Linked DNA regions of Homo sapiens. The protein of the gene in region 3 interacts with the protein of the main gene of each other region in a biochemical or structural test. Each region holds a gene or a part of one and is shown on either strand. Other genes may lie near its edges. The genes, in order: KMT5A, CUL4B, DTL and CHEK1.

The links.
Region 1: the proteins of DTL (region 3) and KMT5A form a complex in vitro, tested with the Homo sapiens proteins (2 studies listed by BioGRID, with this or other methods).
Region 2: the proteins of DTL (region 3) and CUL4B form a complex in vitro, tested with the Homo sapiens proteins (2 studies listed by BioGRID).
Region 4: of the proteins of DTL (region 3) and CHEK1, one has a biochemical effect on the other in vitro, tested with the Homo sapiens proteins (2 studies listed by BioGRID).

Annotation. Positions count from the first base shown.
Region 1 is NC_000012.12:123,401,123-123,408,150, reverse strand, and holds part of KMT5A (N-lysine methyltransferase KMT5A), read right to left. Parts: intron 4,579-7,028; coding exon 4,519-4,578; intron 3,513-4,518; exon of another isoform or gene 3,400-3,512; intron 3,268-3,399; coding exon 3,077-3,267; intron 659-3,076; coding exon 448-658; 3' UTR 1-447. UniProt on the Homo sapiens protein: Protein-lysine N-methyltransferase that monomethylates both histones and non-histone proteins. Specifically monomethylates 'Lys-20' of histone H4 (H4K20me1).
Region 2 is NC_000023.11:120,523,350-120,529,982, reverse strand, and holds the end of CUL4B (cullin-4B), read left to right. Parts: intron 1-3,126; coding exon 3,127-3,222; 3' UTR 3,223-6,125; downstream 6,126-6,633.
Region 3 is NC_000001.11:212,094,728-212,101,755, reverse strand, and holds part of DTL (denticleless protein homolog), read right to left. Parts: intron 1,505-7,028; coding exon 672-1,504; intron 1-671. UniProt on the Homo sapiens protein: Substrate-specific adapter of a DCX (DDB1-CUL4-X-box) E3 ubiquitin-protein ligase complex required for cell cycle control, DNA damage response and translesion DNA synthesis.
Region 4 is NC_000011.10:125,635,162-125,642,189, reverse strand, and holds part of CHEK1 (serine/threonine-protein kinase Chk1), read right to left. Parts: intron 6,762-7,028; coding exon 6,657-6,761; intron 4,742-6,656; coding exon 4,646-4,741; intron 1-4,645. UniProt on the Homo sapiens protein: Serine/threonine-protein kinase which is required for checkpoint-mediated cell cycle arrest and activation of DNA repair in response to the presence of DNA damage or unreplicated DNA.

The DNA.
Region 1 (7,028 bases), on a different chromosome or scaffold from region 3:
CCCGTCCAGGCCATTGGGAGGCAGCGTCTTCCTCACACCCCGTCCCTGGATGTCGGGGGTGCAGGGGGAAGGTCCCGGCTCTTCCACTGGAGAAAGGAGACTCACCTGGCTTCCTAGTTCATGTTTGACTATTTCCTCTAAAACCTGTGCTGAGTCTTTGACTGCATGCACGGGAAGCACAAACGTTCGGCTTGTATGCAAAAAAAGTACAAAAACAACTAGAATATAAAAGTTTTGGTAATATAAGGCCATCTGTTCAAGTCCACCTTGGAAACCTGTAACAGATATTTAAATACTACAGTGAAAAGGCATCTTAATATACTTTTTAAAAACATCTGAAGTAATCCGCTAAGATTAAGTGTGTAAAAAAAAAATTCAATTCCCTTTGAGGGCACTTTGTCCTTTGAAGAAGGGAAAGTGGGGCGGGGAGGGCACGGGGCCCACCGGTTAATGCTTCAGCCACGGGTGGGCTTCAATGGAAGCCTTGCTGCGGTCCCCATAGTCATACAGGAGCTCCTCCCCAGCCGCGATGTCTCGGGAGGCGATGAGGATGAGGTGAGGTACGCCGTCGATGTCGTGCAGTTTGGTTTGGCAGTTCCCACATTTGCTGTGATTGATCAGTCTTCCTAGGCGATTTGTCTCTCTAGTTGCATCCACGCTGGAGGGGAAGGAGGGCCAGAGAGGATTAAATGGATAAAGAGGCTTTTCAACCTGAAGAGAGTCACACTTGTGCTCAGCTCTGGTGGGATGCTGATTTAAAGCCATGTGTTTTGAAAAGATTCAATTCATAAAGCTATTTTCTTTTTCCTTTTTAGAGGGGGTCTCGCTCCGTAACCCAGGCTGGAGTGCAGTGGCACGATCACGGCTCACTGCAGCCTCCACCTCCCGGGCTCAAGTCATCCTCCTACCTCAGCCTCCCGAGTAGCTTTGACCACAGGTACATGCCACCACATCAGGCTAATTTTTAATTGTTTCTGTAGAGACAAGATCTCCCTATATTGCTCAGGCTGGTCTCCAACCCCTGGGCTCAAGTGATCCTCTGGCCTTGGCCTCCTGAGTTTTTGAGATTACAAGCACGAGCCACCAGGTCTGGCTCAATTTGCAAAGCTTTTTTTTTTTTTTTTTTTTTTTTGAGAGGGAGTCTCGTCGCTCTGTCGCCCAGGCTGGAGTGCAGTGGCACGATCTCAGCTCACTGCAACCTCTGCCTCCCGGGGTAAGGCAATTCTGCCTCAGCCTCCTGAGTCACTGGGATTAGAAGCGTGTGCCACCATGCCAGGCTAATTTTTTTGTATTTTTAGTAGAGATGGGGTTTTGCCATGTTGGTCTGGAGCTCCTGACCTTCATGATCCATCCACCTCGGCCACCCAAAGTGCTGGGATCACAGGCATGAGCTACCACGCCTGGCCCACAAAGCTATTTTTGAGAGCCTGCACAGGCCCTGGGTGGGGGGATGGGGTAGGACCCAAAGGGCTCTTTATGGAGGCACAGGAGGAAATGGTAGAGTTTCACAAAATAAATGGATTAAAAAAATCAACCCCGCCAGGCGCGGTGGCTCACGCCTGTAATCCCAGCACTTTCGGAGGCTGAGGCGGGTGGATTACCTGAGGTCAGGATTTCAAAACCAGCCTGGCCACCATGGTGAAACGCTGTCTGTGCTAAAAATACAAAATTAGCTGGGCGTGGTGGCGCATGCCTGTAATCCCAGTTACTTGGGAGGCTGAGGCAGGAGAATTGCTTAAACTTCGGAAGTGGAAGTTGCAGTGAGCCAAGATCGTGCCACTGCACTCCTGCCTGGACAACAAGAGTGAAACTCCATCTCAAAAAAATAAAATAAAATAAAAAATAAAAAATTCAACTCCACTGGTCCTAGCCAGGCAAGATCAATTAGTGATTTCCAGAGCTGCTCTGGCCAAATGCCCTGAAGGAGAGCCAGGTGAGCTGCTTAACAGGTTTTCATGTGACTAGCCCACTTCTCCCCTTGGATGAGATAACATCCAGGACAGCTCCAATTCCAAAGATTAAAAATGGGAAGCTGGGGCCACAGTGGCTCATGCCTGTAATCCCAGCACTTTGGGAGGCCAAGGTGGGCAGGTCACAAGGTTAGGAGATTGAGACCATCCTGGCTAACACAGTGAAACTCCATCTCTACTAAAAATACAAAAAATTAGCCAGGCATGGTGGCATGTGTGTGTAGTCCCAGCTACTCAGGAGGCTGAGGCAGGAGAATCGCTTGAACCTGGGAGGTGGAGGTTGCAGTAAGCCAAGATTGCACCACTGCACTCCAGCCTGGGTGACAGAACGAGACTCCGTCTCAAAAGAAAAAAAAAAAGGGAAGCTGGGGCCAGGCGCAGTGGCTCACATCTGTAATCCCAGAACTTTGGGAGGCTAAGGCAGGCAGACCATATGAGGTCAGACCAGCCTGGCCAACATAATGAAACCCTGTCTCTACTAAAAAAATATATAAGAATTAGCTGGGCGTGGTGACGCACACCTGTAATCCCAGTTACGTGGGAGGCTGAGACAGAATACCTTGAACCCGGGAGGTGGAGGTTGCAGTGAGCCAAGATTGTGCCACTGCACTCCAGCTTGGGCGACAGATCGAGATTCAAAAAAAAAAAAAAAAAAAAAAAAAAGGAAGCAGGCGATAATTGCATCACAGCTTTGAAAAAAGGCAACAACAGCCCGAGCGCAGTGGCTCACACCTGTAATCCTAGCACTTTGGAAGGCCAAGGCGGGTGGATCGTCTGAGGTCAGGAGTTCAAGACCAGCTTGGCCAATGTGGCAAAACTCCACCTCTACTAAAAATACAGAAAAAAAAAATTAGCTGGGCTACTCTGGAGGCTGAGGGAGGAGAATTCTTTGAGCCTGAGAGGAGGTTGCAATGAGCCGAGATCACACCACTGCACTCCAGCCTGGGCAACAGAGCAAGACTCCATCTCAAAAAATAAAAAAAAAAAAGTCAACAACAACAAAACCAAAAGACTGGCCACCAAACAGAATCAGGAGTTCCTGGCCCTTTGGCCTCTCCTCACTGCCCAGAGGACAGAAAAGCCACTCTAAGCAACAGTGGACTCACCAGTAGGTTTTGCTCAGATACTGAAAATAGTACATGTAGCAGCCCGTGGAAGGGTCCTGTGCGTACAGAGCCTCCCGTTTCTTGGCGTCGGTGATCTCGATGAGGTCCCCGTGGTATTCCACCACAAAGTCACCCCGGGAGAACTGCTTGGTGGCAATCACACCCCTGCCTTTGCCATCGATGAGGTCAATCTGTCAGGTGATAAGAGAGGGTGTTGGTTCATAATAGCAATGGATGCCACTGTGCACAGCAGGTCTCCGGGGAGCTGGGGCTTACCCCAGTCTTTAACAGCTGTACTGAGCCATGTCATAAAATTCACTCACTTTACATGTACAGGCTGATGGGTTTTATGAAGTGTATACAGCTGTGCAACCGTCACTACAGGCCAGCTCTAGAACGTTCCCTCACTCCACAAACGTGGTTCCTTGGTGCTCATCTGCAAAGCAGTTACATCAGAGCTCGTGAGAGATCTGCTAGGTGGAGACTGCCCCATTTTGTAGATGAGGAAACTGAGGCTTAAAGAGGCACAACCACGTGTCTGAGGCCACACAGCTAGACAGTGACACAGCTCAAATCCACACACCTGGTTTCTCTGTCTAGGGGCTATGCGCTATGCCTTCCTAGGCAAACAGCAGGCCCAGTGTTCTGGGTCTCTACCTCATTCCACGATTTCTCTCCTGTGTCTCCTCACTCTATTCTACATGGAGTTGAATGGGGTTGCTGGAGGGGCCCAGGACTTAAGCCGGAATCCCCCTAGGTGGTGGGTGGAAGTGGAAGCTTTCTGAACCCGGAGCCCTAGTCTAGGCCCATCTGAACCCCACTGTAGAGAGTACTTCTCCTCTCGCCCAAACTGAGTGTGGTTGAAATACAGTAAGAGAAAAGCACATTTCTTGGGCATTGTCATTATCTAGGAAAACAGTTTAAAAATGTATTAGTTTCTCCTTTTAAAAGTTTCCCTGGGCATCAGCTACATATTGTATAATCCGATTTATATGAAGTGCCCAGAAGAGCAACTCCACTGAGACAGAAAGCAGCTGAGTGGCTGCCAGGGGCTGGGCAGGGGAGAGGTGGGGATGGTGGGCAGTGGTAAGTAATGGGTAAGGGTTTCCATTTGGGAGGATGAAAAAATTCTGAAATTAGACAGGGATAATGGTTGCATTGCATTGTGAATGTACAAAAAGCCACTGAATTGTTTAACCACAATTTCTAAGAAAAGCTTCCCCTGGATAACATTTATATACAAAGCCCATTTATGTTTCCTTCATAAGACATTTCCTTAACAACTTTTGGTATTTGGCTCTTTGACAACCTAATAGAGTCTGCCTGGTCACCATGGCCATTAGAGGGTGAAAGCCACATGGTGGCCACTCTCAGCCACGGGACCAGGGAAGGTGAGCTCTTCCAGCTTTAGCTATGATGCAGCAAGCACAGCAGCCCCTTACCTTCATTCCTTCTTCCTTCCCACTTTCAATCAATTCATCTATTCTTTTCCTTTCTTCAGACTGGGCAGAGAGAAAGAAAAACAGCATCAGTATCTTCTCCTAGGCCCATCGTGCGTAGCTTGATGGTCTTGAGCCCTGATTGCCCAGGCCATGCCCACCGGGCCACAATCGGCCTCATTTGGCATCACTGGGGATGATGGGTCCCCAGTGATGGCAAAGCCCCCAAGTATCCCTCCTTTTCTCATCACCCATCTGTTGTGGAAGATCTGTCACCTGGGGTTCAACTGGATCAGGAGGGAAACAGTGGGGACCCAAGAACAGAATGGGGCTCGTAGATATGTTCTGTTGCCCATGCAGCACGTTAAAAAATGTCCAACTTGCCCACACCTGAAAATCAGGCCTCTGACTTCACAGAAAATCAGGTACAGTGGGCCAGGCGCGGTGGCTCACGCCTGTAATCGCAACACTTCGGGAGGCCGAGGCGGGCGGATCGTAAGGTCACGAGTTCGAGACCAGCCTGGCAAATAGGTAAAACCCTGTCTCTATTAAAGATACAAAAATTAGCCAGGTGTGGTAGGAGCCTGTAGTCCCAGCTACTCGGGAGGCTGAGGCAGGAGAATCGCTTGAACCTGGGAGGTGGAGGTTGCAGTGAGCCAAGATTGTGCTACTGCACTCCAGCCTGGGCGACACAGCAAGACTCCACCTTAAAAAGAAAAAAGAAAATCGGGTACAGCAGATCAGAGGCTGTGCCCTTTGGATGGGACACACGCAGTCCACATGGCTCTGGTCTGATGGCTCATACTTCTGTTTGGGATCGCTGAGATTCACCTGTATGGAGGCCACCACGATGGATGAGAAGAGGGCCTCCAATCCCGAGGGTCAATACAGACCTGAACAGAGAACTGGGAGGGGGCACCCCTGGATCCACCTCTCCTCTAAGGCCACCCCTCCTGCACCTACCTCCATCCCTAACCCTGGGTTCTACTGCTCTGCCACTGCACAGATACTACAGAGCAAAAGGGAACCAAATGAAGACAGATCGGAAGCTCCAAACCAGTGTGGCTCACCCCAAACCAGCATGTCTTGACGGCATAGACTTTCACCAAACCAGATGGCACGTGTCAGGAGCCTGACACCAACTGCTGAGCTCAGCCCATTCCCCCTACACAGAGGCCCAAACCAGCTTGCAGCTTTTCCAGGCACTCAATCCACACCTGCAATGTGCCAGGCGCTGCAGTCTGTGCTGGGAACAATGGTGAATGAGTAACCTCAAGGACAGTCCCAAATCCTGCCACCTCCTCTCCATCTCCATTCCCACTGCGGCCCTGCAGCCCAGCCACGGCCCCGGCCCCGCTCCGGCCCCCTTGCTAGTCACCAGGCTTTCACTCTGACCCCAGGGAACACTCAGTTCTCCACAAGGTAGCCAGAGGGGTCTTTTAAAATGTAAATGAGGCCAGGGGCAGTGGCTCTCTCCTGTAATCCCAACACTTCAGGAAAGCCAGGAGGAAGGATCGCTTAAGGACAGGAGTTAGAGACCAGCCTAAGCAACAGATCCAGACCCTGTCCCTACAAAAAATAAATAAGCTAGGTGTGGTGGCGTACACCTTTGGTCCCAGCTACTCTAGAGGCTGAGGAAGGAGGAGGATTGCTGGAGCCCAGGAGGTTGAGGCTGCAGTGAGTCATGACTGTGACACTGCACTCCTGCCTGGGCAACAGAGTGAGACCCTGTCTTAAAAAAAAACAGAAAACATGACCAGGCATGGTGGCTCACGTCTGTCATCCCAGCACTTTGGGAGGCTGAGGTGGGTGGATCACTTGAGGTTACGAGTTTGAGACCAGCCTGGCCAACATGGCGAAACCCCGTCTCTACTAAAAACACAAAAATTAGCTGGGCGTGGTGGCACACACCTGTAATCCCGGCTACTCAGGAGGCTGAGGCAGGAGAATCGCTTGAACCCAGGAGGTGGAGTTTGCAGTAGGCCAAGATCGCACCACTGCACTCCAGCCTGGGAGACAGAGCAAGACTCCATCTCAAAAAGAAACAAAAAACAAAAAAAAACCTTCCCATAAACTTATTTAATAGTAATATACCTAACAAAACCTCACATATCAATATTAACCTTAAACATAAATGGACTAAAATGTTCCACTTAAAAGATATGAAAGATAAGGGTCAAGAAGGTTAAAAAAAAAAGAAAGATATACACCTGTTATCCCAGCACTTTGGGAGGCCGAGGCGGGCGGATCACGAAGTCAGGAGATCGAGACCATCCTGGCTAACATGGTGAAACCCCATCTCTACTAAAAATACAAAAAATTAGCCGGGCATGGTGGTGGGCACCTGTAGTCCCAGCTACTCGGGAGGCTGAGGCAGGAGAATGGTGTGAGCCCGGGAGGCGGAGCTTGCAGTGAGCCAAGATCGCGCCACTGCACTCCAGCCTTGGCAACAGAGCAAGACTCCATCTCAAAAAAAAAAAAAAAAAAAAAAGAAAGATATATATTGGTGGAAT
Region 2 (6,633 bases), on a different chromosome or scaffold from region 3:
AATTTCCCATGTTGATGCATATGATTTCCAAAAAAAAAAACTTTGTTGGCATATGTGGGCAGCAGTGACAAAAGGGAAAAATAACAGAAAAGCCTGGATACCTGAAAGTTTAACTGCTAAATGAGTGTTTGAAATTTTCAAGTTTATTCACTATATTTCTTTTGAACTTCTTGGTTGGTTATTTACTTCTTTTCCTCTTGAAATACCATGGTATTTATTGAAATACCATGGTATTTGACAGATTTAGTTATTGTGGATTGAGTTAAATCTCCTGTTTAGTTAGCTTATATAAGAGATCATCTGTTAAAAACCATACAGATAACTAGTCATGATTAAGCATCTTTTTGAAAAGTGTAGTGATAGTTCTGGTAAACTGAAATTGGTCATTAAATGGAAACGTTCCATTGTGAATGACCAATAATAAAGTCACTTAATGTGATGTTGTACTGGCCTTTTTTCCAAGTTTTAGGAGGTAGATAGCCAAACCCTTGGATGATAAACATTGATAGAGTTTGAATAGACTGCTAGCTATTAGGGTTCTTATGAGCTTTGGACTTTCATAAATCACTTCACCATGCTGATCTTGTTTCCTCTTTTGTAAAACTGAGATAATAATAGTACTTACCTTGTAGGATTATTGTGAGGTTTAAGTGAGATCATGAATGTAAAAATCTTAGCACTGGACCTGGTACATAATAAGCACTCGGTAGCTCTTAGTTCTAATAAGGTAAGCATTTTCTTTTCTCCAAACCTAATATCGCACTCCTCATTACCACCCTCTCACCCTCATGCTCTGCTTAATAGTCATTTCACCTCAAGCCAGAGAGATCACTGATGCTGGGGAAATTAGGGGATCGCTGTAGTTAATATTGTGCTGATATTCTAGGTCTTTCACCATAATTAAGAGAAGTCATCTGATTTCCCAACCTTGGGATTACTGGATAAAATTTTCACTGCTGTATCAGACTACTTCCCCTCTTTTCCCCTCTTGAACAAGTGGTCATTTTACTTATCCTGAAAAACTTTCTATTAGCAAACAAGATTATATTATATTTACAGACTAGATACATAAGATATATAGTGGAATTTTGTCATCCAGGAGCTTAGAATGCAATCATGAAGATAAAGCTACAAGCTTTCTTGATTACTTTTAAATCACAGGATGCAGAAATCCAAGTCACTTAGATGCACTAAACCAGAAATATGAAGATCTAAATTATGAGGTACTTCATTTATCAAGCCATTTCATGTAGTTTTTTTTTGAGATGGAGTCTCGCTCTGTCATCCAGGCTGGAGTGCAGTGGCATGATCTTGGCTCACTGCAGCGTCTGCCTCCCGGGTTCAAGCAATTCTTTTGCCTCAGCCTCTCGAGTAGCTGGGACCACAGGTGCGCACAATCACGCCTGGCTAATTTTTGTGTTTTTAGTAGAGACGGGGTTTTACCATATTGGTCAGGCTGGTCTCGAACTCCTGACCTCATGATCTGCCCACAGCCTCCCAAAGTGCTGGGATTACAGGCATGAGCCACTGCACCTGTCCAGTATTCTTTTAAATAGTGATTTTTTTTTTTTTTGAGATGGAGTCTTCTTGCTCTGTCACCCAGGTTGGAGTGCAGTGGCGCGATCACGTTTCACTACAACCTCCACCTCCCGGGTTCAAGCAATTCTCCTGCCTCAGTCTCCCTGGTAGCTGAGACTACAGGCGCCCACCACCACACCTGGCTAATTCTTGTATTTTTAGTACAGATGGGGTTTTGCCATGTTAGCCAGTCTGGTCTCAAACTTCTGACCTCAGGTGATCCACCCATCTTAGCCTCCCAAAGTGCTGGGATTACAGGCATGAGCCACCACACCCGGTCTAAATAGTGATTTCATCAGTACGTTTTAAATCTTAATTTATAAAAATGAAGCCAACTAACTCTTGCCCAAAGTAAAGGTGTGCTTCATGAACTATCTTGACAAAACTAGTATTCTGTGTCCTTAAACTACCTTACAGTGCTCATGTGAAGTTACAATAAATGTAGTCTTTTGTATTTAACCACGCGAAGGGTAGCTGCTTCTGGCATGACCTCTTTAAAATAGAAAAGTAATAGAAAGTATTCCGTAACAATATGACAAGGATGTGACAGTTTAATGTATGTATAGTATATAGTACAGGTTGAACACCTTTAATGAGAATCCAAAATCTGAAATGCTCTAAAATTGGAAACTTTGAATGCCAACATGATGCCACAGGTGGAAAATTCCACACTTTACCTCATTTGACAGGTTGCAGTCAAAACTTTGTTTCATGCACAAAAGGTATAAAATTATCTTCAGGCTATGTAAGGTATGTATGAAACATAGATGAATTTTGTGTTTAGACTTGGGTCCCATCTCCATGGTATCTCACTATGTATATGCAAATATACCAAAATGAAAAAGTCAGGACCAGGCATGGTAGCTCACACCTGTGAGTACTGGGATTCCAGTACTTTGGGAGGCTGAGGCTGGGGGGATTACTCCAGAACAAGAGTTTAAGGTCAGCCTGGGCGACATAGCAAGACCCTGTCTATTAAAAAAATTAAAAGCTCCAAAAAAAAATCAAAAATCAAAAACACTTTTGGCGTTAAAGAATCTTCAACATACCTGGGCACGGTGGCTCATCCCTGTAATCCCAGCACTTTGGGAGGCTGAGGCAGGTGGATCACCTGAGGTCAGGAGTTCAAGACCAGCCTGGCCAATATGGTGACACCCCATCTCTACCAAAAATACAAAAATTAGCCAGGCGTGGTGGCTTGTGTCTAGTCCCAGCTACTCGGGAAGCTGAGGCAGAAGAATCACTTGAACCCAGGAGGTGGAGGTTGCAGTGAGCCAAAGTGGTGCCACTGCAGTCCAGCCTGGGTGACAGAGCGAGACTCCGTCTCAAAAAAAAAAAAAAAGAATCTTCAACGTGTATAAAACATTTTTTAACCTGGTTTATTTTCATGATACTTTTCTCTAAAAAAGAGATTTAAATAAATAAAAATTTTAAAAAAGGAGATTAAATTCATGAGCCGAAACTGTTGTCTTTTTAATGGGGTATTAACTAAATGGGCTTGAGCCAATGATAATGAACTTTACATTGAAAATTTGCCTTCTCTTACAGCCTGCTGATCTTAAGAAGAGAATAGAATCTTTAATTGACCGGGACTACATGGAAAGAGATAAAGAAAATCCAAACCAGTACAACTATATTGCATAGAATGTTGGCCTTGCAGCATTTGGTGTCATATGCAGTAGCCAGTGGATAAACTAACCTGTTGATTCAATATTATTTGACTCCTTTTTTACTACCGATGACCAAATGAAGCAGTGTAATTAATGGAAATAGTTGAGTGGACTTTTTCTCAGTGGTTAACATGCCCATTTTAAAGAGTAATACTTACCTTTAAGAAGAATGTTGTTGAACTCTTTGCATGTTATTTAGTATGATGTGCAGAAAACACTTAAGAACGTACCTGGTCTTCATGAATTCCTCTTTGGAACTGGGAAAGAGATCCCTGTGGCTATTAAAAAGGGGGGAGGGTTCTTACACACCATTAATTATGAAGCAAAAGGTTTATTTGCTTAAAATGTCATTTAAAGATACTTAAACTGCATGCAAACTTTATTTACTGTACAGAGTTCTGGATGTATTTATCAAATAGAAAAACCACCCTTGACTTGGTTGTTCACCCGTTTTGTGATTTCCCTTGAAAAGAGAAATGAATTGTCATAGCTATTGATATTTTACTAGGTGATGTTCTGTTACACTGAAAGGGATGTTTTTTAAAAAAAATTATTTGGAAACAAGTTTTCAAGTAGGGGGACAGTTGCTTACATAATATCTTGTATATTCACATCCTAAAAATTTTCATTTATGAGTATGGGATGTGTGTATATGGCTTAGCCCCAAGTTAACTGTGCTGATTAACAAGTACTTATAAAAATAGCTAAAGTAGAAAATTAATGATCAGTTGTACTAGAGGAACATCATAGAAGAGAAAAATCCAACTCTTTATATTAAAAATGAATACAATAAGAAAATTGCAAAAGAGACCAAAATGAACGTGTTTTGTAAATTGTTACAGGAGCAAAAACTTTGCAACTAGTTTTCAACATACTTTAGACTTTAAATGTTGTTTGGACAGTTTTGTCTTCAACTTGGACCAATTGTAGATTGTTACAGGCTTCCTAGGATTTAGCATTCCTATTTTCTCTACCAAAGTTTTTTTTAGAAGCATCCCAACTCTTCTCTTTGTTGATAAATAAGCCTTTCCTGTCATCTTCATTTTAACTTGCTAAAACCCTAGATACAAAGGTCCTCCCTCATTTTTCCCACAGAGCCCCTGTTTGGGAATTTGAGATTCTGTGTCATGCTGGTTTTCCTTTCAGAATTGCTTGAAATCGAGTTCTCTTAGCCACTGGACACCTAGTTTTCAGGAGAATGTCCCAAGATTGTTTATATATACAAAATGGCAAAAGTACTGTTTTTCGAATTGATAATTCAAGCAAAGGCTTCTCTTTACTGTCACTGATTTTTTTTTGTTTTTATTTTGTTTCCTTGTTTCTATTTCCTTGAAGCTTTGAAGGGAGGAGAAGCAGAAAATTTTGTTTATGTTTGTTAAAAATCAGAACTACTTAATGCTTTTTGCCACAGCATATTTCCTTGCCTGTTGGAGCCGTTAGGAAGATTACCTATGTCCTAATCTTCAACCTGAGAAGATTTTTGACTCTTGTGTCTACTGTTGATTGTTTGCTTGAGTTCTCAAAGACCTGTGGCCAGGTATTTTAAAAAGTCGTCTATTTCTTTCTAGTTGCATCAACTTGCACACTGGTGTCTAACTATATGTGGTATTCGGAACTTGTAATTCTTATTGAGCAGCCATTGCCTATATTTTCTCAGCTCCTCACTGATTTCTTTATATGAGCTCAGCTGACAAGCAAATGCAGCTATTTTGTTTACCCTCTCTTCATACCGGACCATCAACAACAGTGTTCTAACTCATCCCTGATGGTCTGTGAGATGTAGACTATTACACAAGATTCAAGTTACTCGTAAGCAACTTTTAGATAGAGTTGGTCCTGTTAGGAGGAGACTCTTGATGTCACCTTCAGTATCTTGAAAGCGGGTCCCCTCCCCGAGGCTCTTAATTCTTTGAAAACTTGATGCTGTTTCAGCTGAAAAATTAGCAAGACTGTTAAAAAAAAAAAGTTGAGGGGAGCTGTTTAAGAAACTGAAAAGTAATTGCAAACTACATTGGATAATTGTGACTTTCAGTTGTTGTTCTGTATCAGTTGAATTTTTGTGCTCTTTTCCCTGTGTACGTGGTGGTTCTATTTTTCTCCAATAAAACTTTTATTTAAAAAAAGTTTCTAGAGAAGATCTTTAAAATTCAAGTATTGTAAGAAAGTTATAAAATCACAGGACTTAAAATCTTCCTAACAACTTCTAATGAACTCACATTTGTTGATTTTGTTATTTTTAAACTTTTTAAAAATTTTGTAATGGTTTTGTGGTAATGCTATAAGAGTATGGGGGAGGGCATGGTTAACAGGGTGAGGAAAATTCCCAGGAATCCTCAAGGTGGATAATTATTCTTAAACATGCGGATACAAGTATAAACATTGCTTCATTCAAATCCTCAGTGTCAAATTGTTTCATAAAGTCAATATGAAATGAGTCTAGATTTGAGTTCAGGGGAGAAGAAAAGATTACTCTTAGTTATGGCATTTGCTCTGCCTTTTCTGTTAATAGTTTTTTGAGTTCTGGGCCAGATACTCTCAGAGTAAGATGTTCCTCAAAGTTTTTGAACCCAGTTCCTGAGTCTGCTTGAATGGTCTTAATATGATGTCTAGCCATACTCTTGAAATTTTTGCTGTGTATGTGAGTGTACAGTTCAGAAAACCAGTTTATCTGGGCATCTGGATCTAAAGATTTGAGAAGTTTGTTTTTTAATCTGGATATTCATAAATCTTTTAAAATGAGCTGGTCTTTGTTTTCATGACCACTCTGTTTAATGCTGTGAATGGCAGGAGTGTTGTGAGCGTGTTCTATTCTCTTATTTACATAAAATTGCCAAAACAAATTGTTCATTAAAAAGAAAAGAGCAGTACTGATGAAAATTTGCATAATTATGCTTTGTAAAATGATATCTTGCTAATGCTTCATTAATGAATATTTTTCAGTGTCCTACAAAAAAACACCTGCTTTACATTTGAATACTGAAGTTTGTTCACCTGCAAACACTTGGTTGAAATCAAACACTTTGCTCAATTATTTTCCTTTTTCCCCTTGCTATTATAAAAAAGGGTATTTCTTCTTTTGAATGGACACATAATGTACCTTTATGTTTAACAATCCTTAGAAGTCATCTCTAGCATAGTGAAAAAGACTCTGACCTTTCTTTTGTAAAACCGTTTCTATTGGATGTAAAATATAAGAATGTGCTGCACTGGCATGTTAGAACTTAATAGTTTTGCCAGCTATAACAACAACAGATCCTCTTCATTTGTTCTCTAATTTCAAAACTTTTCTTTAATTTTTAAATTTTTTATTGTGGTAAAGTACACACAAAATTTACCATTCTAACCATGATAAAGTATACAATTCTGACATTTAGTACATTCACAA
Region 3 (7,028 bases):
AGTCAATGAAATGAGTCCTAAAAAGATAAGTGACACTACACTGAATGTTAAAAAGAATAGATATAGGTGTCAAAAGTATTACTGTGGTGTGGCAAAATGATTATAAAAGATTGTGGAGAAGTCATAAAAATCTAGAAAGATTTTGCACTCAAATTGTTTTGTAAGTATCTAAGTTTCACTGTATTTTAAATAATCACAAAATGGAATTACAAACTGGAAATCTACTTATGGATGTTGGCAACTTTCCCATGAACAACAGCTTTATCTATAAAAAGAGGATGGCATACTGTCTAACAGGAGAGGGGAGATATTTTTGAATTGATATCCTGGAGCATGATGAAGGCTTTGGTCAATCAGGCAACAGGGCTGAGGAGTATGGACCCTGACAGGAGGGATTTTAATGGGAGTAAGTAGAGTTGCCAGATAAAATACAGCACATTCAGTTACATTTGAATTTCAGACAAACAAAAATAGTTTCTTAGCATAAAACATTTTTACTAAAAATATGGCCCATGCAAAATTTGTTTTGTATTTATGTGCTGAATTTGGCAGCACTAGGAATAAATAGATTTCTTTCTTTAAAAAAAAAAAAAAGCATCCTGACTTGAGACATCTGGGTGTCTGGCCCCTTTTAAGTTAGGAAATGTATCTTCCCACCACTGCTGACTTACCGGGCTTGGCAATTTCTTTCCGCTCTGTCTCCTGGAATTGGGTGTCTGGGATGACGGACTTCGTGGAGATGGATTCTCAGCCTTCCGTTTGGCTGCCATGGCCAACAACCAGTTTTTATTCTCTGGGGAACTATTCTCTTTGCCTACCATTTCAGACCCTTCTCCACAAGGTCTCAAAGGAAGAGGTAGCGTTCCACAGCTTTCTGAAGCATACGGACTGATAGGAGACGGAGGCTCTGAGATACTGGTACCAGCTCCTTCAATTTTGCTTGATTTGGTAGGACCTAGAGAGTCCTTACTAAGGTCTTCCTGGTTACCAGCAAGGCAGCACAGATCCAAATGAAGATTTTCAACTTGGCCATCAAGCTCAGTCACACAGTTACAACTCTTCACACACTTTTGTTTCACACTCTCCAGACAGCTTGAGTCTAGCCTCCTCTTTACTCTATTTCTAGACTCAGAGCAAGCCTCTGCTTGGGATGACTTCTGGCTCACAGGAATAAGGGCTTTTCTCGGAGACATGATCTTGGTCTCCGAAGCAGGTGGAGTGATGGGTGGTGATGAGGAAGGTGTTCGGGTCACCCAGTTTCTAATCGACATCTTGAAAGATGAAGGTGGCTTGGGAGAGACGGAGGAGACAGAGCCTCTTCTGTTGATGGGAGACCGGGCCTTGGCAGGAGAGGTTTTAATAGAGAACGTAGGAGTATTTGAAGGAAGAGGGAGGTCTCCAGCACAGCTTGGGGCACAAGCTGCGGATGACGGGGAAGAATTGGATGGATTGCACTTTGCCCTGGGGGCTTTGGCAGGAGTACTCTGGCTACTCGTTACTGTTACTGAAAAAGAGGAGAGGATCATGAAGATCAGAAGTGAAAGCCATACAAAGTCCCTAAATTCTCATCAAGAAAAATCATAGCTAACCTAATCATCTAAGGGTCAATTTGCCAGTAAGTAGGTATACATCACTTGATTCCAACCACACCCTTTTATCATTTTCCTTTCTCTTTTCCAAGTCACCAACCTCCCAACTATCCCATTATAAAATATATACTTGTAAAAATCGACAAAATACCGAAAAACATAAAGAGAAAAAATTTAAAGCACTTACGTAAACCATGTTTAGCATACTTTCTATATTTGTGCATGTGATACATACTATACATCTCAACTTTTTTCTTTACAAAAATGAGACTGATTTAAGGGGAAAGTGGCAGATAGGAGGCAGGACTAATTTGCCACTCAGACAGACAGAACAGCATGTGGAGACTCACATAGTGAACTTTGGCTCCAAGAACTATCACAGGAACATACCAGAAAAAACAAAAGAATTAACAGATCCTTTGAAAGAAGTGGCTTGCTGCTGCAAAATCCACAAGACAGCAGAAAAATTGAGTGCCCAAAGTGTGAGAGGGCTCCCGAAGCTGTGTGCTTGGTCGAAGAGGACAACCATTCCTGATAAGAGGAGAATCGGTCTTCAGTCAAGGGTATACGAGTAAATGTGCTCCCCTGCTAGAACCTCCAAACAAGCTCTCAAGGTCCAAAGTGTGAGAGGGTGGCTGGGTGTGGTGGCTCATGCCTGTAATCCCAGCACTATGGGAGGCCGAGGTGGGTGGATCACTTGAGGTCAGGAGTTCAACACTAGCCTGGCCAACATGGTGAAACCCTGTCTCTACTAAAAATACAAAAATTAGCCAGGCATGGTGGTGTGCACCTGTAGTCCCAGCTACTCAGGAGGCTGAGGCAGAAGAGTTGCTTGAACCTGGGAGGTGGAAGTTGCAGTGAGCCAAGATCGCATGCACTGCACTCCAGCCTGCCTGACAGCGAGACTCCGTTTCAAAACAAACAAACAAACAAACAAACAAACAAAAAACAGTGTGAGAGGGGTAAAGTCCACTTCTGCACACATCCTCACTGAGGATCCAGATCATGGGAGAAGGAGAACTGAAATGAATTTAGAGAGCCAAACAAAATATAAAAGTAGAAGCAGCAGCAGGAAGAGCCCTGTAGGCACTCCTGGTCCCCAGGGAAACCATTTCTGACTATCTCACAGGGGTCTTTGGAGAGGGCAGCCAATGGAATTGGGGAAGGACCATAGGGAGAAGGAGACTTTCAGCTGAACTTTGTAATGATTTCAACTGAGCGTGAATTTTCCTGGGCAGAATCTGCAGGGGGATGGGACAAATAGGAAGTGCAGATATGAGCACAGAAGCTGTGGCAGGCAGATGGACAAGGCCTAACAGCCCTGCTTGCTTTCTCGGCGGGGAGTTTTGTAGTCTAGGGCAAGATCTCCACCCTGTGCACTGGAGGCATGGATATAAATTTGGTTCTGTTGGCTGTTGGGGAAGCACTGCAGGAGTGAGACTGGCCTTGCTGGCTGTGGTCTGTCACTGCCGGCTTTCCCCTATTTCCCTGGTGATGTGTATGAAGCAGCAGAGGCAGCCATAATCTCCCTTAGAACGTAACTCCATTGGCCTGTTAACCACCACTCCCATCGCCCAGAGGCCACAGCAAGCCCTGCCCAAGGAGTCTGAGCTCAGACACACTATCCCTGCCCCCACCAGATGGTCTTTCTCTAACCGCCCTGGTAGCCGTAAACAAAAGACAAAAACTCGTGGGGCCCTGCTCATTGCCTGAGAAGCCCGAAAACCTATCCAGGAAACCGTAAGGCAAGCTTATATCCCCCGCTATACTACTGCAGTTGATACTCTCTTGAAAGTGCCACCTCCTGGCTGGAGGCCAACCAATTCAAGCCATTACAGCAATTCAACAGAACAACCCTGCTCCAAGAAAGCAGAAAATAACAGCTAATTCTACTGCCTGTAACATCTTGGCCAACCAGAGAGGTCCTGAGTCTGTCCATGTAATAACTTCAGTGCTAGTATAACTAGCATTCAAGACAACCAGTACACTAAATAAAACTACAACCAAGTACTCTCACACAGTCCACTTCACTCCTTTCCTACCACCTCCATTAGAGCAGGTGCTAGTATCCATGGCATACAGACCTGAAGACAGATCACATCACAGGACTCTTAGCAGACACTCTCCAGTACCAGCCTAGAACCCAGTAGCTCTGCTGGGTGGCTCGACCCAGAAGAGCAATAACAATCACTGCAGTCCAGCTCTCAGAAAGCCCCACCCCTAGGGAAGGGGGAGAGCACCACACCAAGGGATCACTCTGTGGGACAAAAGAATTTAAACAGCACACATTGAGTCCCAGATCTTTCTTCTGACATAGTCCACCCAAACGAGAAGGAACCAGAAAAACAATTCAGGTAATATGACAAAACAAGGTTCTATAACCACCCCTAAAAGATTATACTAGCTTACCAGCAATGGATCCAAACCAATAATAAATCTTTGAATTGCCAGAAAAGAATTTAGAAGGTCAATTATTAAGCTACTCAAGGAAGCACCAGAGAAAGATGAAAACCAACTTAAATTTAAAAATAAAACAAAACAGGATGTAGACGAAAAAAATCTCCAGAGAAATAGATATCATAAATAAAAAACAATCATGACTTCTGGAAATGAAAGACACATTTAGAGAAATGCAAAATACACTGGAAAGTTTTAACAATAGAACCAAACAAGTAGAAGAAAGAATTTTGGAGCTCAAAGACAAGGCTCTTGAATTAACCCAATTCAACAAAGACAAAGGCAAAAGAATAAAAACTTCTCTGGCCTTGCTCGAGATCTAGACATCCAAATACAAGAAGCTCAAAGAACACCCAGGAAATTCATCACAAAAAGATCATCACCTAGACACACAGTCATCAGGCTATCTAAAGTCAAGATGAAGGAAAAAATCTTAAGAGCTGGGAGGCAAAAGCATCAGGTAACCTGTAAAGGAAAAACCTATCAGATTAACAGCAGATACTCTACAAGCTAGAGGGGATAAAGGTCTTATCTTTAGCCTTATTAAATAATTATTAGCTGACAAAATAATTATCAGCCAAGAATTTTGTATCCAGTGAAACTAAGCTTCATAAATGAAGAAAAGATGAAAGTCTTTTTCAAACGCTGAGAGAATTTGCCACTACCAAGCCAGCATAGTTTACAAAAACTGCTAAAAGGAGTTCTAAATCTTAGAGCAAAACCTTGAAATACACAAAAATAGAATCTCATCTCATAGTGGGGGACTTCAATACAGTAAGTCAACATAGAAACAATGGACTTATACCCTAGAACAAATGGACTTAACAGGTATTTACAGAACATTCTACCCAACAACTGCAGAATATACATTCTATTCATCAGAACATTCATGGAACATTCTCCAAGATAGAGACCATATGATAGGCCACAAAACAAGTCTCAATAAATTTAAGAAAATCAAAATTATATCAAGTACTCTCTCAGACCATAGTGGAATAAAATTGGAAGTCAACTCCAAAGGGAATTCTTAGAACCATGCAACATTAAATAATCCGCTCCTGAATGATCTTTGGGTCAATAATGAAATCAAAATCAAGCTGGAAATTAAAAAAATTCTTTGAACTGAATGAAAAAAGTGACACAACCTAACAAAACCTCTAAGATACAGCAAAAGCAGTGCTAAGAGGAAAGTTCACAGCATTAAGTGCCTACATCAAAAAGTCTGAAAGAGCACAAATTGACAATCTAAGGTCACACCTCAAGAACTAGAGAAATAAGAACAAACCAAACCCAAACCCAGGAGGAGGAAAGATATAACAAAGACCAGAGTAGAACTTAATAAAAATGAAACAACAACAACAAAATACAAAAGATAAATGAAACAAAAAGCTGGTTCTTTGAAAAGATAAACAAAATTGATAGCCCATTAGTGAGATTAACCAAGAAAAGAAGAGAGAAGATCCAAATAAGTTCAATTAGAAATGAAACAGGAAATATTAACAACGAATACCACAGAAATACAAAAGATCATTCAAGGCTACTATGAACACATTTGTGCTCACAAACTAGAAAACCTAGAGGAGATGGATAAATTCCTGGAAATATACAACCTCCTAGATTAAACCAGGAAGAAATAAGAACTCTGAACAGACCAATAACAAGCACTTAGATTGAAATGGTAATAAAAAAATTGCCAAGAAGAAAAAGTCCAGGACCAGATGGATTCACTGCTGAATTCTATCAGACATTCAAAGAAGAACTGGTACCAATCTTACTGAAACCATTCCAAAAGAGAAAGAGGGAATACTCCCTAAATCATCCTATGAAGCCAGTATCACTCTAATACCAAAACCAGGAAAGGACATGACAAAAAAGAAAACTACAGACCAATATCCCTGATGAACATAGATGCAAAAATCCTCAACAAAATACTAGCTAACCAAATCCAACAGTATATCAAAAAGATAATCTACCATGATCAAATGGATTTCAAACCAGGGATGCAGGGAAAGTTTAATATACACAAGTCAATACATGTGATACACCATATAAACAGAATTAAAAACAAAAATCAGGCCGGGTGCGGTGGCTCATGCCTGTAATCCCAGCACTTTGGGAGGCCGAGGAGGGCAGATCACTTGAGGTCAGGAGTTTGAGACCAGCCTGGCCAACATGGTGAAACCCCATCTAAAAATACAAAAATTAGCCAGATGTGGTATCTCAGCTACTTGGGAGGCTGAGGCAGGAGAATCCCTTGAACCTGGGTGGTGGAGGTTGCAGTGAGCTGAGATGGTACCACTGCACCCCAGCCTGGGCAACAAGAGCGAAACTCTAAGAGAAAAACAAACGAAAACACATGATCACTTCAATAGAAGCAGAAAAAACGTCTGACAAAATCCAGCATCCCTTTATGATGAAAACACTCAGCAAAATCAGCATAGAAGGAACATACTTGAAGGTAATAAAAGCCATCCATGACAAACCCACAGCCAACGTTATACTGAACGGGGAAAAGTTGAAAGCATTCCCCATGAGAACTGGAAAAAGACAAGGATGCCCACTTTCACCACTTCTATTCAACATAGTAGTGGAAGCCCTAGCCAGCCACAGTCAGTCAGAAAAGAGAAATTAAAAGGCATCCAAATTGGTAAAGAGGAAGTCAACCTGTCACTGTTAGTAAATGATATGATTGTATACCTAGAAAACCCTAAAAACTCATCCAAAAAGCTCCTAGATCTGATAAATGAATTCTGTTAGGTTTCAGGATACAAAATCAATGTACATAAATCAGTAGTACTGCTATACAGCAACAGCAAACAAGCTGCAAATCAAATCAACAACTCAACCCCTTTTACAATAGCTGCAAAACCTAGGAATATACCTAACTAAGGAAGTAAAAGACCTCTACAAGGAAAACTACAAAACACTGCTAAAAGAAATCAGATGACACAAACAAATGGAAAAACACAACCTACGCTCAAG
Region 4 (7,028 bases), on a different chromosome or scaffold from region 3:
GAAAGATGACACTGAAGTCAATATCCAAAGAAAGTAAGAGAATAAGACATGCAAATAAGTCCCATGGGAAAAAGCATTTTCAGACATAGGAACAGTCACTACAAAAACAGTGAGGTAGAAGTGTGCCTAGAGCACTTGGAGAACAATAAGAAGAACAACAATATGACCAAGGGGGAGCAAAGCAGAACTGAGGTTGGAGAGGTAATGTAAGGAACAAAATTGTGTAAGAACTCACAGGTCATGAACTGATTTTAGCTTACACTACACGTGAGAACTAAAGCATTGGAGGATTTGGGTAGAATAGTGATATATTCTAATTCACTTTTAAATCAGAACATTTTGGAAAGATATCATGGTAATTTGGAATGATAGGGTAACAGTAGAGGTAAAAAAAAAAAAGGTAATCAGATTCTAAGATTTTTTTAAAGATAGAGGTTAACAGAATTAGCTGGTGTACTGGATGTGAAGTAAAAGAGAATGAGAAAAATGAAGGATGATTCCAAAGTTTCTGATCTGCATAATAAGAATAATGCAGTTGCCATTAACCAACATGGGAAAGACTTTGAAAAGGAATGGGTTTGAAAGGAAAAGATCAGTAACTCAGTTTGGAATTCATCAAGTGTGAGATGCCTCTTAACATTCAAGTGAAATTTCAGAAGGCAGTTAAGACATGTAAGTTTGGAATTCAGAGGAAAGGTCTAGGTTGATATAAATGTGACTATCAACATATAGTTTTATTTAGAGCCATGAAACCAAGTAATATCACTAATGGAGTGAGTGTGGAGAAGAAAACAAAGGAGATCCATAGATTCAGCCCTGGAGAACTCCAATAGTAGGAGGCTGAGCAGATGAAAAAAAACCATCAAGAGACTGAAAAGAGCGACCAGTGAGAAGGACGAAAATCAGAAGAGTGTAACGCCTGGAAGCCAAATGAAGAAAGTGTTTAAAGGAGGAGGGCATGATCAACTGTATAAAATATTGATGAGATAAAACAAGAGGTCTGAGAACTGACTACAGTAGTACCCCCCTTATCCACAGAGGGATATGTTCAAGTGGATGCCTGAAAGTACAAATGGTACCAAACCCTATATATGTTCTTTCGATCTAATAACCAAAACAGCTACTAAGGGAGTTACAAGCAGGTAGCACATGGAACGTGAATACACTGGAAAAAGGAGTGATTCACATCCCAAGTGAGATGAAGTAGGACAGCACAAGATTTTATTATGCTACTCAGAACAGCACACAATTTAAAACCTATGGCAGGGCATTGTGGCTCATGCCTATAATCCCAGTACTTTGGGAGGCCGGGGTGGGTGGATTGCTTAAGCCCAGCAGTTTGAGAACAGCTGGGATTACAGGCGTGAACCACCACACCTGGCTAATTTTTGTATTTTTGGTAGAAAAGCATAGGCAACATGGCGAAACCTCATCTCTACCAAAAATACAAAAATTAGCCGGGCATAGTGGCTCACACCTGTAGTCCCAGCTACTCGGGAAGCTGAGATGGGAGGATCATTTAAGCTCAGGAGGTAGAGGTTTCAGTAAGTGGAGACCACGCCACTGCACTCCAGTCTGGGCGACAGAGCGAGATCCCGTCTCGAATTAAATAAATAAATAAAACCCATGAATTTCTTTTTTTTTTTTTTTGAGACGGAGTCTCGCTGTTGCCCAGGCTGGAGTGCAGTGGTGCGATCTCGGCTCACTGCAAGCTCCGCCCCCCGGGGTTCACGCCATTCTCTTGCCTCAGCCTCCCGAGTAGCTGGGACTACAGGCGACCGCCACCTCGCCCGGCTAATTTTTTGTATTTTTAGTAGAGACGGGGTGACACCGTGTTAGCCAGGATGGTCTCGATCTCCTGACCTCGTGATCCGCCCGCCTTGGCCTCCCAAAGTGCTGGGATTACAGGCGTGAGCCACCGCGCCCGGCCAAAACCCATGAATTGATGAATTGTTTACTTCTGGTACTTTCCATTTAATCTTTTCAGACCTCGGTTGACCACAGTGGACTATTACATTGAACTTGGCAACACGTTCCAAAAATCACTGTGACTCTTGGCAACAAAATAGATGAAATTGAAAACTAGTTTTGAGGTGTTAGAGATGAGAAGCAATTTTAGGAATATTCAATTGTGAAGAAGATGGAATGGTAGGGAAAAGTGGAGTTAAGAGAAATTTTATTACCATTATGATTTGATTTTAAAATGGGAGAAAAAGCATGTAGATATGCTGATGAGAAAGATCCGGTAGAGAAGGAAAAATTAATAATGTAGGAGAGGGAGAAAAATTGCTAGACAAAGTCATTGAGTGGGTAAGAGAAAGACCTGGCTTACATCCAGAGCAATTTATCTACAGCAATACAGGATGAAAGAGAATACATGAGCATAGAGGCAGTTAGTATGGAGGAGATGGTGGTGGGAGCTTGCCTAAGTTCTCTTGTGGCTTTCATTTCCCAGTGACACAGGAAGCAAAGTGAACAACTGAGAGTGAGGATGGAGAGAAGATAATAAAAGTTAAGGGACCAGACACAGTAGCTCACACCTATAAACCCAGCACTTTGGGAGGCTGAGGCAGGGGGATCACTTGAGGCTAGGAGTTTGAGACCAGCCTGGCCAGCATGGCAAAACCTCTACTAAAAATATAAAAATTAGCCAGGTGTGGTGGTTCACACCTGTAATCCCAGCTACTCGGGTGGCTAAGGCACGAGAATCGAATCGCTTGAACCTGAGAGGCAGAGGTTGAAGTGAGTGGAGATGGCGCCACTGCACTCCAGCCTAGACCCTGTCTCAAAAAAAAAAAAAAAAAAAAGAGAAAAGTATTATAAAAACGTGATTTAGGAGAACAGGACAGAGAAAGATGTGGGGAAACGAAGGCCAAATGCCAGGAAGCATTAAGGGCCCACTTGAGATTAGTAATCCTGAATTTAAAGTGAACATTTTTGGGTATTTTTCTCCTGCTGCAATCTGTTGTGCAGGTACAAGTGTGCAGTACGTAGAAAACTACTAGATTAAACCCAGAAACTACTTACTGGGTTTTACCCACTAAGTATGATGAAGAGAGAAGGGGACAAGGAAATTGAAGATGATGAACGCAAAGCAGTCATTTATAATGACTAACCTAAAGATTTAAGATAGGTAAAGATGAAATCAAGGACCTAGAGAGGGAGCAGGTAAGAGACTGAAGAGATAGAATTAATTAATTGCAAGTCCAGATACAAAGGACTGTTTAAGTTAGAATATTAAGGGAGGAAGTCAGAAAAAATTATACTGGTGATCAGTGCAGCGTGTTCAAAGACAACATCACTATAGGAGAGAGGGTCAAGAAACAGTGAAGTCAGGATATCAGGAGGATGATCCAAATAAATATTTAAATCACCAAGAATCATGACGAAAATAACATCAAGAGTCATTTTGCAGACTGTGATAGTACGGCAGAAATTTTAATTTGGGGTTCAAAAGTTAGAGGGGAGAGACATAAAGGAAGATGGGAGAAAGTGACAATGAAGAATAAGGAGGACACCTGTACCATGTCCAGATCAAAGGACATGAGGGTATGGGAAAGAAAACACCTACCGCTTCAGAGGAAGCAGTGTCCTCAGGGGAGAATTGGACTTTAAGTTAGGACAAGGAGGAAGAAACATGCAGAGAGGTATTAAAGAAGAGTGAATGTTTAAACATTAACTCTTTTCTATCCATGAGGACAGAGTTAAACATTAATAACTCTCTGAATGTTTTTCATTCATCATCTCTAGTCATTGTCCTCTCTCCTTCCATTCACAGCCTAACAGTCCTATCAATACTAGTTCTTAAATTTCTTTGGAATCATCTCATTTCTCCAATACCATTGCCCTAACCTATTCCAAGCCACCAGCCTCCCACTTCTAGACAACTAGCAGAAAAACCTACAGCACCCTGAATCTTTCCCTATTCATAAAAAACAATGGAAAAAAAATAAGGAAGTCAGAGAAATATTTTTAAACCGAAGATATGACTATGTCATAGTCTTGCTTAAAATCTCTCAGAGGTCTCCCCAGTGGTCTTAAGTTAAAGCCCAAAATCCTTAACATGGCTTACAAGGTCTTCTTCCACAAATTGGCCACTAGCGACCTCTCTGGCCTCATCTCAAACCTGTCTTCCTCTCCCACTTCCCTGTTCACTCACTCAACAAATATTTAATGAGTGCCTATGGTGCACCATATACTGTGCTAAAGCACTGATGATACAATGATGAACACAACAGACACGGCTTGTGCCATACTGATCTTTCAAGTTTCTCAAAAGCATCAGACTTTCTAAAATCTAAGATTTTTCAAATACTGCTTCCCCTGTTCAGAATCAAATCTGCCACTTACTTTGCCTGCCTAGCTTCCCTTTAATCTTCAAATCTTAGATTTAATGTAATTTCTTCAGGAAGAAAAGTCTTCCCTGTCCCTTAGACTTGGTCAAACACTTAGCTATAGTACCCTGACTTTCCCCTTTATAATTATTAATAAACAAAATTATTTCTGTATTTTTTTCTACTGGACATTATAATCTCCATGAGGACAGAGATCATAGCTATCATGTGTTGTTGACTTGTGATAATAACTTTGCAATTACCTTTTCTTCCACAGAAAAACAAACAAACTTGTAGTTTAAGGATATTACCTTTCTTGAGGGGTTTGTTGTACCATCTATCTTTTTTGATGTCTGGAATGGTAATTCTTGCTGATGGATTCTCAACTAAGATTTTATGCAGCAGAGCTAAAAACAAACATTACGACAACATTCACGAAAGAATCATGTTAGAGAAGCCTATGGCTTGAGGTAAGAAACACATTTTCTGTTAGCCTACTTATGTCTAAATATTATTCCTGGGGAAGAGAAAGAATTAAAGCTACTAAATTACTGCTTTAATTTCATGCAGTTTTTCTCTGCTGCTGTATCTTGGAGTAGTCTTCCCTGATCTGATTCTCAATTGTTTGCAACTGAGAACAAGAGCCAGATGGAAATGTTTCTCCTCATGTGACGAGATTAACAAAAAGATACAGAAACCCCTCTTATCCATTTTCAATACCGAATTTCATTACTTCAATGTCATGTTCTCACGTGACCTCCTTATTCACACAGTTTTATAATGAACATTTACTTACCAATAACTTTTTAAGAGACAGTAATCTAACTAACCATCCTAAGGTATCTTAATTTTCTTGAGAAAAAATTCACGTATCTTCCTATGTGAAGATTATTTCCTAATGGACCAAAGATTTAAATGGAAAAATGAAGCCATAAAAACACTAAATGAAAACATAGGGAACTTTTAAATAGTAGAGGTAGAAGACCTTTCCAAAGAAATTATAGTCAGGGACCACAAAGGACAAGATAATAGATTTGAATGTCAATATAGCAAAACAAAATGAAAATAAATGATAAATTGTGAAAAGTATTTGTAACAAGTGCAAAGGTCAATGTGTTATCAAGGAAAAAAAAAAGCTTCAAAGTGGTAAGAAAAACAATATCCTTGACAAAAATGAGCAAAATAGACAAAAAACTAATACATACATAAAGGGTATACAACTTCATTAGTATTAAATTTAAAATAAAAATGAAAAACTATTATTTAAAGTTTTTTTCCTTAATGTAAATTGATGAGACTGTGATGAAATGGTTCGAACTTTCGGGAAGCAATTTGACAAAATAAGCCATAATAATAAAAACTACATCCTTGATCCTGCAATTTTGCTTCTGGGGATTTCAATGAACAATTTAAGGGTATGTGTCATGATTAAGTTACACAGATACTTATATCTCTTTTGTATCTGTGAAAATTTAGAAAAATCTCCAACAAAGTGATTAAAAGAGTAAAGTAAGGCATATCCACATGGCAGAATATTATCACAGCCTTTAAACCAACGATGTAGACCTACAATTATAGTCATGGAAGAATGTTCGCTGCGCACTAAAACCAAAAACAGTTACAAAATATTATTAGTGTGATCTCATTTTGTATAAAAACACATATAAATAATATACATATATTCATTTTACATACTTATGGGCCACATTAATGATGTTTCAGTCAGGAATGGACCACACGTATAACAGACAGTCCCATTAGATTATAATACTGTATTTTTACTATACTTTTTCTATACTTAGATACACAAATACCATTATGTTACAATTCCTTACAGTGCTCAGTATAGTAACATGCTGTACAGGTTTGCAGCCTGAGATCAATAGGGTATACCAAATAGCCTAGATTTATAGTAAGCTATACTATCTAGATTTATGTAAATATACTCTATGATGTTCACACAATGATGAAACCACCTAATGAAACATTTGTTAGAGTGCATCCCTATAATTAAGCAACAAACGAGTGTATTTGCAACAAAGTATAGCACATATGAAAACTTTAAGTAAAAAGCCATCTAAGAGCAGATTCAAGTTGCTCTGAATATACACTCCCCAAAATATTTTTAAAAATCTATTGCAGAGTTCTGGGACTAAAGAGTTATTTTTTCCTTAATTTTTTACTTATAGTTACTATTTTATCTACAACGAACATGAATTATTTGTAAGTTTAAAACAAAAAAAAAAGTAAGAAAAAATTCAAATAGCACAAGACTTCATATCCAAGAAATCGGTACTCTTTCACTCAAGATAATTCAGTTACCTAGAGGAGCAGAATCGATTTTTTTCCAAGGGTTGAGGTATGTTTTTTTTTCTTTCCAGTCAGAATACTCCTGACAGCTGTCACTGGGTTGGTCCCATGGCAATTCTAAAAACAAAGCAAGTCCCAGTTTTTTTAAATGTTCTTATTATAAAGATTTCAAGGAAAAATAATAATATAAATCCATGAAAAGTTTCCTTTGAATTAATTCAATATGGTTTTCACACTAAGAATCCCAACTTGGAAACTTTAGAGGCACTTCAAAGATAGATGAATCAGGATAGGCATGGCAGCTCAGGCCTGTAATCACAGCACTTTGGGAGGCTGAGGCAGAAGGACTGCTTGAGCCCAGGAGTTCAAGACCAGCCTGGGCAA